Regions from separate parts of the Homo sapiens genome. Here region 1 is linked to region 2. Evidence: fine-mapped expression QTL. A gene starts in region 2. The other region holds a variant in brackets. All regions are shown on one strand. Distances are from middle to middle.

The links. PIP is the estimated chance that this variant, and not a neighbour inherited with it, causes the effect.
Region 1: its variant is the best candidate, but not a certain one, in a credible set for the expression of CDYL in monocytes after LPS (Fairfax 2014, PIP 0.55).

Annotation. Positions count from the first base shown.
Region 1 is chr6:4,598,458-4,602,842 of GRCh38, reverse strand. No RefSeq gene overlaps it. Among named protein-coding and RNA genes, the nearest start is that of KU-MEL-3, 9.9 kb to the left of the region's middle. The variant T/C (reference allele first, on the strand shown) is at 2,467.
Region 2 is chr6:4,774,664-4,779,048 of GRCh38, reverse strand. CDYL (chromodomain Y like) reads right to left here and starts at 2,645. Exons shown (of 7, transcript NM_004824.4): 1 at 2,242-2,645. The coding sequence starts at 2,265. It overlaps CDYL-AS1 (CDYL antisense RNA 1), which reads left to right and starts at 3,623. Exons shown (of 2, transcript NR_183279.1): 1 at 3,623-3,777; 2 at 4,292-4,385. RefSeq lists silencers at 2,294-2,843, 2,864-3,493 and an enhancer at 3,301-3,954.

The DNA of each region.
Region 1 (4,385 bases), 180 kb after region 2:
TCACTGTCCCCATGCTGGGACTTCCACTGATGATTGCATCAGAATCTCTGGGGGAGGGCTTCAGACACCCCAGGTATTATATTGTATAGCTTGGATTGAAAACACAACTTGAGTGTTGCCTGGAGGTTAATTAGAAAAAGGACTCCCCATTCATCTGTTAGCGAGCGATGTTGTTACCCCACCCACAGAGCCCTTTGCTTGAATCCAGGCAACCTACCAGGCTCCTGAACAGTCTTCTCAAAGAAGTGTTTCTTGAAGGTCTCCAGTGCACCTCACCCTGGGCTCCACCGGCCCTCATTACGCTGCCATGGATGACGTTAGCCTCATCTTCAGTTGAGAAAGCTGAGACTCAGCAAGTTTCCTTGTAACTAGGGAGGGGCAGGGCAGTGGTTTAAAATAAAGCCATGCACACCTCCTTCCCCAGAGCATCCAGTGCCTTGCTGATGGAAAAGCCACCGCTGCTGAGAAAGGCAGCTGTGCCTGGGCCCCGCAGGTCACACTGGAGTCCTCACCTCCATCTCTGCATTCTGGTGCATTTGGAAGAGGATTTCTAGAGGTGGGAGAGGAGATGTAACTTCCCCCACCTCCTTCGCATCTTCTAACAGTTGCAGCCTCCTCTGCTTTGCGCATTCACAGGGAGGAGCATGGGCAGCACCTGCATGGGTGGCACACAGCCTCAGCCTGCAGGAGCATACACACCCCAACAGCACTCGTTCTGCAGCTGTGGCCTGCACCTTCCTCAACCCCTGGCCCCTCATCTAGGCTGTTACAGGGGAACTGGAATCCACCCGGCTCAGGGCCCAGGTACTTCCGCAAGAGGCTGTTGCCCTAAGGTAAGGCTCTGACGTTCCAAGTCTTAGGCATCCAGTATTTTGGTGGGATTTGAAAGACCTTACAGAAGAGACCCTCCTATTGTGCCCCAATGAGTCCTCCCAAATCCATGCAGTTCCCAGTTTCTTGCAGGTCCCCAGTGTACCTCACCCTGGGCTCCACCGACCCTCGTGATGCTCCTGGGGGTGATGCTGGCCTCATCTTCAGTTGAGAAAGCTGAGGCTCAGCAAGGTTCCTTGAAGAGCCACTCCTTTCCCAAACTATGCCATCCCCAAGAGTCCTGTGCTGAAGTGTTTAGAATCCATGATGATTTGTCCATTTGCCTGTTGTCTGGCGTGATCCCTTGTAGAACTCCGTAATACAGCATGAAAGTCCTCTGAGGCCTAGAGTCTTAATTCCATGCTCTTGGGCCCAGTGCACACCAGTGTTCTTGTCAATGAAATGATGAGTTTCATCTTTTCCTCACATATTTCTACAGTACTGAGGTTGGGATCATTTGAGATAATGGACAAGAAATTGATTTTTGTACAACAAAGTCCGTCTGACAATGTGTGAGATAGTTTCATTACTGTCACTGGGAAAAAAAATTTGTATTGGTCTGCTTTCCAATATGGCAACTGACTGAGAGCAAGAAAGACAAAGAATGTTTCAGTTTCTGAAGGGCAAGTTTGGAGAGAAAATTCCTGCCCATAGAGGTCATGTGGCTGAGGTTGAATGCTGTGGTGAGAAGCTCCTGGTATCCTGAGGACTACCTCAGAGTTTTGGGAATTTGGAGAAGGCAGCCAAAGTGTGGAGGAAAGAAAATTAAAAGGGAGAAGAAAGAGAACTCACTTATTTTGCATTTTGTCAACAGCTCAGCCCATCCTGAGACAGGTGATGAAGACATGGCAAGCCTTCCAGAAGCTGCTGTGTGTGTGTGTGTGTGTGTGTGTGTGTGTGTGTGTTTCAGACTCGGTAGGAAAGGATGGGCCATTGACAAGAATAACACAGACCAGCAGGCAGAGCAGGCATCACAGGAGACGCCCTAAAGGACAATAAGGAAGCAGGCTTGTGTGCAGCTGGGCCTGGCCTCCCTGGTGTGAACTGACTGGCTGGCACCAGGCAAGGTAGGCCGGACCTAGGGTGTGGTGGCTCATGAGGCCATTAGAGCATCTGTCAGGCCCAGCACCCAGGGCTTGTGCAGTGGGGCAGGCCCTACCCTTGCAACCGTGCAGGGAGAGGGTGAACTCAATCCAGAGCACTTCCTTCTTAGGGGGCCACATGTCCGTTGTGATTTCAGGGATTTGAGCACCTGCTTTTTCTGGCATATATTCTGTGGTCTTGTGGACACAGTATTGGCTGTGGCCCAGGCTCTGCCCTGGTTCTCTTCCCGACAGACTGTGTGGCCATGGGCAAGTCGCATCACTTCTCTGGGCTGCCACATCCTCTTTGATAAGACGATGAGGTTGGGCTAGATGACCTCTAGAATCCCTTCCGACTTGCTGTCAGATTGCTCTAGGATCCAAGATTCGTTTCTAAGACAATATTGAGAGGCAATACGGCCTATATGGCTGGATCCTGTGAGACGGGGGTTTACACACATTCTGATGCTGTACAATCTTCACGTTAAAAGCAAATACTGGAATATGGCATTCC[T/C]CAAAAAAATTAAACGTAAAATTACCATATGATCCAGCAATTCTACTTCCTAATACATATGCAGATGAATTGGAAGCAGAGTGTCAAACAGATAGTTGTACACCCATGTTCATAGCAGCATTACTCACAATAACCAAAGGATGGAAACAAACCAAGTATCCACCAACAGATGAATGGATAAAAAAAAGTGACATATCACAAAGGAATGTGATTCAACCTTAAAAAGGAAGGACATTCTGATACATGCTACAACATGGATGGACCTGGAGGACAATGTGTTGAGTGAAATAAGCCAGATACAAAAGGTCAAATACTGTATGATTCCGCTTACATGAGTCATCACCTTCCTAGAGACATGAAGTAGAAAGGTGGCTGCCAGGGACTGGGGCACTCACTGGGTAATCGGAAGTTACTTCTTCATGGATGCAGATTTTCACCTTGGGAAGATGAAAAATGTTCTGAAAATGGTGCTGGAGGTTGCACAACAATGTGAATGTATTTAATGTCACTGAAATTTACACTTAAAAATGGTTAAAACTTTATGGTATGTATATTTACCACAGTACAAAAAGCATGGCCGGGTGTGGTGGCTCATGCCTGTAATCCCAACACTTTGGGAGGCCGAGGCGGGCGGATCACTTGAGGTCGGGAGTTTGAGATCGGCCTGGCCAACATGGTGAAACCCTGTCTCCACTAAAAATACAAGAATTAGTTGGGTGTGGTGGTGCACGCCTGTAATCCCAGCTACTCGGGAGGCTGAGGCAGGAGAATGGCTGGAACCTGGGAGGTGGAGGTTACAGTGAGCCGAGATCATGCTACTGAACTCTAGCCCCTGGGTGACAGAGCGGGACTCTGTCTCAAACAAACAAACAAAAAACAAACTCCAAAACCAAAAAACAAACAAAAAACCCAAAACAAAAAACAAACCGAAATGCAAATACTAGGATGTTTATGTATCTTAACATGTTAAATTTAGTATAAGAAATAATTGTAAATCATAATTTGTGCTGGCATATAGCCCTCTTGTTTGATATGAGTGAAACTAATCATTGAATAATTAATTTGAAAAATTAAAGTGGGAAATTACTAGAATGATGCTTCTATACTCTATTTATTCACCAATCATCAGATTCTTTCTTCGTACTTAGGTTTGCTGAGAATTCAGCATGGTCTTTCTTACATAAACCACACTCAAAGTACATCATTTACAAATTCCAGTTTCAGAGTCTTTAACATAGAATTTGTTAGAAATCTTAGAGATCTTAGAGACACTTAAGAAGAACAATGAATGCAGATTCCTTCTAGGTTTCCTGACCCTTCCCCAAGCCCAATTCTTTCATAATTGCATTGCCCCACCTAATTCCATATCTATATCAAATCTATATCTATATCACTATCAGTTTATATAAGAGTTTAAACAACTAAGCTTTATAAAGTTTTCCCAAAGCATTCAAGTTATTATGGAAATGACAATAACATTCACCACCCACTTCAATGGGCTTGTGGACAAACACAGTTCTCAGTTTGTAAGCACAGAACTCAATTAGAGGAACAGATGTGTACAGCACACTGTAAAATGGGTGAAAAGACAAGCATCAGGTGGGCGAAGACAGTTGCAACACGTATACTGACAAATGACTAGGATTTCAAATATACAGAAAGAACTTAACCAGATTAATATGGAAAAGAAATAACCCAATAAGAAAAGGGGCTTATTAGACAGGCACAAAACCAAAGAGGAAATTCAGATGGTCAACAAACATGAAAAAGTGGCTCAAATTTATTAGTCATCAGGAAAATGCAAACTAAAACTACAATGAGATAGCCTTACACAGGAGACAGGAAAGAACTAAAAATTCTGAAAATACTAATCGTCAGCAAGGGTTTAGAGCCACAGCAACTCTAGCGAAAGTTCTATG
Region 2 (4,385 bases):
TCATCACTTACTGGGTGCTTGCCATGGGAATTTTAGGGTGGGCTTTACATATGTTCTCATGTAAACTTCATAGCTCTATAAGGGAAACACTGATCCCAATTTCACAGATGAGGAAACTGAGCTTTCAAGGCTAATTTACCCAAGGTGATAGAGTTGGAAGTCACTAACTGGGTTGTCTGACTCCAAATCTAGGCTCTCAACTGCCATGCAAAACTTTCAATGTCAACTTTCAATGGTAACATAGTCACAGTGTTGCCTACAAGTAAAAGAAAAGTTACAAATTTTGCCTTGAAAGATACTGACCACTACATATTTACTACACATACTTAAATTTATCACCTGAACTATACTTCTATAATACCTTTTTTTCCAAAACTAAAATAAAACTCAGAATCAAAAGTTCAATTGTGCAGGTGTATCATTTATTTGCAATATACTTACTTCCTCCCCAACAGACACTCCTTGAAAGCATGAACCATTCTCACACCTCAGTATTTCCCCATGAAACCTCCATATGGCAAGCATTCAATAAACGTTAAATGAACACAAACTTAGTACAAAATGTTACTCATTAATAACTTCTGTTAGGAACAGAAACCTGAAGATATAGAATAAGCACAGAAGGAACTAAACTTAGTTCATAATATACTAATGGGAAATGTGCTGTCTTCAGAATCATTCTTACACACATAGGATACAACTTACGTATAAGGTGCTACTCTCATCCACTGATGGAACTGATTATGTAATCATACTCATAAAAGCAAATGCCAAGAGTGAACACTCATGACTAAACAACCAAAGAATGATCTAATGTAGAAACTAAAATCCCCCATACCCTCATGCTATGTACTTCCCCCTGTACAGACTTCACCTGGAAGACCTCAACCTCAAACATCCTAGCCTCCATTTCTGTGTCTTCCAGACACACAACACTTTCCTTCCTAGAAGGAAAGCTCCTGAGAACAGGGAGATTTTTCTTCTTTTACATCCCCAAATGACCTAAAATAGTATCCTGAATACAGCGGGGCACAGCTAATGTGTAAAATGGTTGAAAAGAATGGAACATTTTCAGTACCAGCTAAGGTATACTGACCACATACAATGTAAGGAGAAGCAACAACCTTACCCTTAATTCTACAGATGGCAGCTTCCTCCTGAGAACTTCTGCAAACACTTGCTCTTAAAAAGCAACAAAAAAGTTGCTAGAAGACTAACATCGCAGACAACAAAGCTCTATTCTATGCCAACAGCAATAATACGCCCATAAGAGAAGACAACTGAAAGGATCCCTGGGGCCACAGGGCTCTACTTGTTACAGATGCTTCCTTAAGTCCCTCAACACCCAGGTCCCTAAACGCATCATAAAGGTGAGTCTAGAGAGTCTTCGCAAGTTTTAAGTCTCTTAGGAACTTATTTATAAATACATGTGAAACAAGAGAATCATTTATCCAGAAGAACAGAAAGCCTTCCAAACTTCTGTACTCCCAGGAAGTCTACTTTGAAATACGTCAAAAGAAGTTACATGGAGACATACAAAACATGTCTAAAGATCCAAATTGGTAACTCTCAAACTTGAAGCTGGTTTAAACCCATCGACCAGAACTTACAGTTCTGGCTATGCCCTTCTCATTTGCAACGCTGCGGCGCAAATGAATGACGGTGTATCAGCGTTAAATTTAAATTTCCTGGCTCTGGCCACAATGCTAACCTAATTAAAGCATGTGGTCAACGTTTAGCATTTTCGGTGCGAGATTTTGCATCGCTTTGGCGAACAGCAAAGTCGAAAGCGTTTGCACCGGTCTTCTCCCCGCCACCCCCCGACCAGGGGCAAAACCCTCTCCCAAATGCTTTATCAAATGATCCAGAAACCCCCCCACACCCCACCCCCCGTACCGCCCACGGTCCCCGCCGAGCGGCAACGGAGGCACCACTTCCACGACCCACGCCAAGAGCACTTTGAGCTCAGTCCGAGCAAGTCACTTGTGTCAGCACCACTTCCCCACGGCTGGGACCCCCCCCCCCACCCCACGCCCGGCAACTTCAGGACCCCCCGGCCGGGGCCCCTCGGAACGGAGGCTCGGGCTCCCCTCACACACATTTCCCGTCCAGCAAACTGCGGCCGCGGCGGGGGAGGGGACGCGGCGGGCGCGGGCGGCGAGCGGGGCCGTCGGGCGGCGCGGCCGGGCCGGGAGGGGCGGCGGGCGGGGGGCGGCCCGAGGCCGGGGGGAGGGGAGGTACCTCGTACAGCTCCTCGGAAGCCATGGTGGGCGGCGGAGTTGCGGGCGGGAGGGGCAGGGTCGGGGCGGGCGCCGGCGCCGGGCGGCCGACACTTTGTTTCAGTTGGGTCCTGCGTGGCCTGCGCTTCCTGCTCCCGCGGCCGGCCGGGCGCTGGGCACGGACGAGCCTCTTGCACTCCGCGGCCAGTGCGGGCCGGCGGCGCGGCGGGGTTGTGCGCAGGAGCAGCTACGCAACGCGCCCTGGGCGCCCCGCGCTCACTCCCCGGCGGGCCGGCTCGCGCTCGGGCTCATCGCGCCCCGCCGCGGGGCCGGGCGGGCTGGGGCGGGCGCGGCGGCGTGCGGGCGGCGCGGCCGGATCGCGGCTCCCCTCTCCGGTGTAGTGCAGAAAGCTTCCTACTTGCGACCAAAAAACCTGCCCCGGCTACTGAGCATGCCCAGTGCGGCCGCCCGGCCCTGCGGAGCCGCGCTCCCGCGCTCCGGGTTTTCGGGCCGCCCGCGCGGGAGGGGCGGGGCGGCGGCGGGGCGGGGCAGCCGAGGGGAGCAGTGGGCTCCGCTCGGGGCCGAGGCGGGCGGCCGGCGGGGCCGGGAGCGAGCCGGCAGGAAGGGGAGGAGCGGGGCAGTCGGGGGCGGGGCCGCGAGCGCGGGGGGCGGGGTGGTGGGCGGGGCTCCGACTTCCCCAGTCCCGCTTGCGGGGTCGGCCTGGCCCGCGGCACCGCCCCCCAGCCCGCCTCGACGTGGGCGCTTGCGGCCCGGCCCAGGGCAGGCGGGACCTGGACCTCGAGGTTCGAGGCGCAGCGCGGTTGTGCACACCAGGACGGGCAGCGACGGACCCGAGATGGGGCAGGGAACCATGCGAGCGAGCCGGCCCGCGTCTGGAGCCCACCGCCCCGACGGCAGCGGCCGCGCCGTCTACCGCGCGCCTCCCTCCAGGAGGAGCCCAAGAGGCGGCCTCCGTGCGCCCGCCCGTCCGGGGCCGGGCCAGCCCGCGAAGGGCCGGCGGCGTGGCCAGGTGGAGCACCCACCCCACCCCATGCCCGCCCCACCGGCCGCCGCCAAGACCCGGAGCCCGGGCCGCGCGCCCCGCGGGGTGGCCCGGCGAGCTCCGGCTGGCACGCTGGCTCCGCGGCAGGCCGGGGGTGGGATCCGGGGGGCGGGAGCCGGGCGCGGCGGAGGGCGGCGCGAGGGCGCGGCTGCCTCCGCTCTGCCCGCAGCTCCCCCCACGCCAGGCCTCTGGGTTCCTCTCGGAGCGTCCGCCTCCTCCGAAGCGCAGCTGGGAAGGGACCGAGTCTGGATTCCAGGGAGGTCCGGGTTCTAATCGAACGAGGCTGTCAATGGTGGTTCCTTTCGCGGAACGGTGTGGACTACACGACAGGCCCTCGCTCAGAACAGCGAGGGCTGGCCCGCGCTCCACTTCCCAGGGAAGATCTACTGCCAGGGCACACCTGCCGGGCCCTGGACGTGCCCCATCGGTGGCGAAAGAAGGGGCTTCCTGACCCAACTCCCCCAGACAGCCGCCAACTCCGATCACTCTGGCCGAGTATGCGGAACTTCCCCACGGGGCACTGCAGAGGCATTAGTTCACCCTCTCCCCCAGGCCCTGCATCGGGAAGCCCTCGCCAGTTCCTCCATGTCTCCCCGGGCATCCTTCGGGCCGCCTCACTCCTCCGTGCTCCATCTCGCTCCAGTTCCTAACCTACCTTGGAGCCACAAGGCTCCTCCCACCAGTTTTCTTCCTAAAGCCCTATTCGTTTGTGCCCCCCAACAGCGTTTCAACAACCACGGGGCGTCTCACAGACCCCGCGGTTTCCTGTCCTCCCCACGCCCAGGAACAAGCACCACGCCAACCCTTAAGTCACTGCGAGTCGAATCGCCGTTCCCCTTAAGCGGTGCTTCTACCTGCGGTCCCCACCGTTTGAAACAAACTCCCAGCTCAGGGATCACCTTAAAAGGATAGCCTTCCTGACTTCCAGGGCCAAATCGGTAACTCCCTCTTCAAGCGCTGCCTAAGCACTCACGCGTGCTCACTGCAGCACTCGTCTCTGTATTTTAAGGTTTGTCTACTCTTCACCCCACCCCAACTCCAAACGATGACCTTCAGTCAGACTTCATCTTCAAATTTGACGCTGGCCCCTAGCACCATTCTCT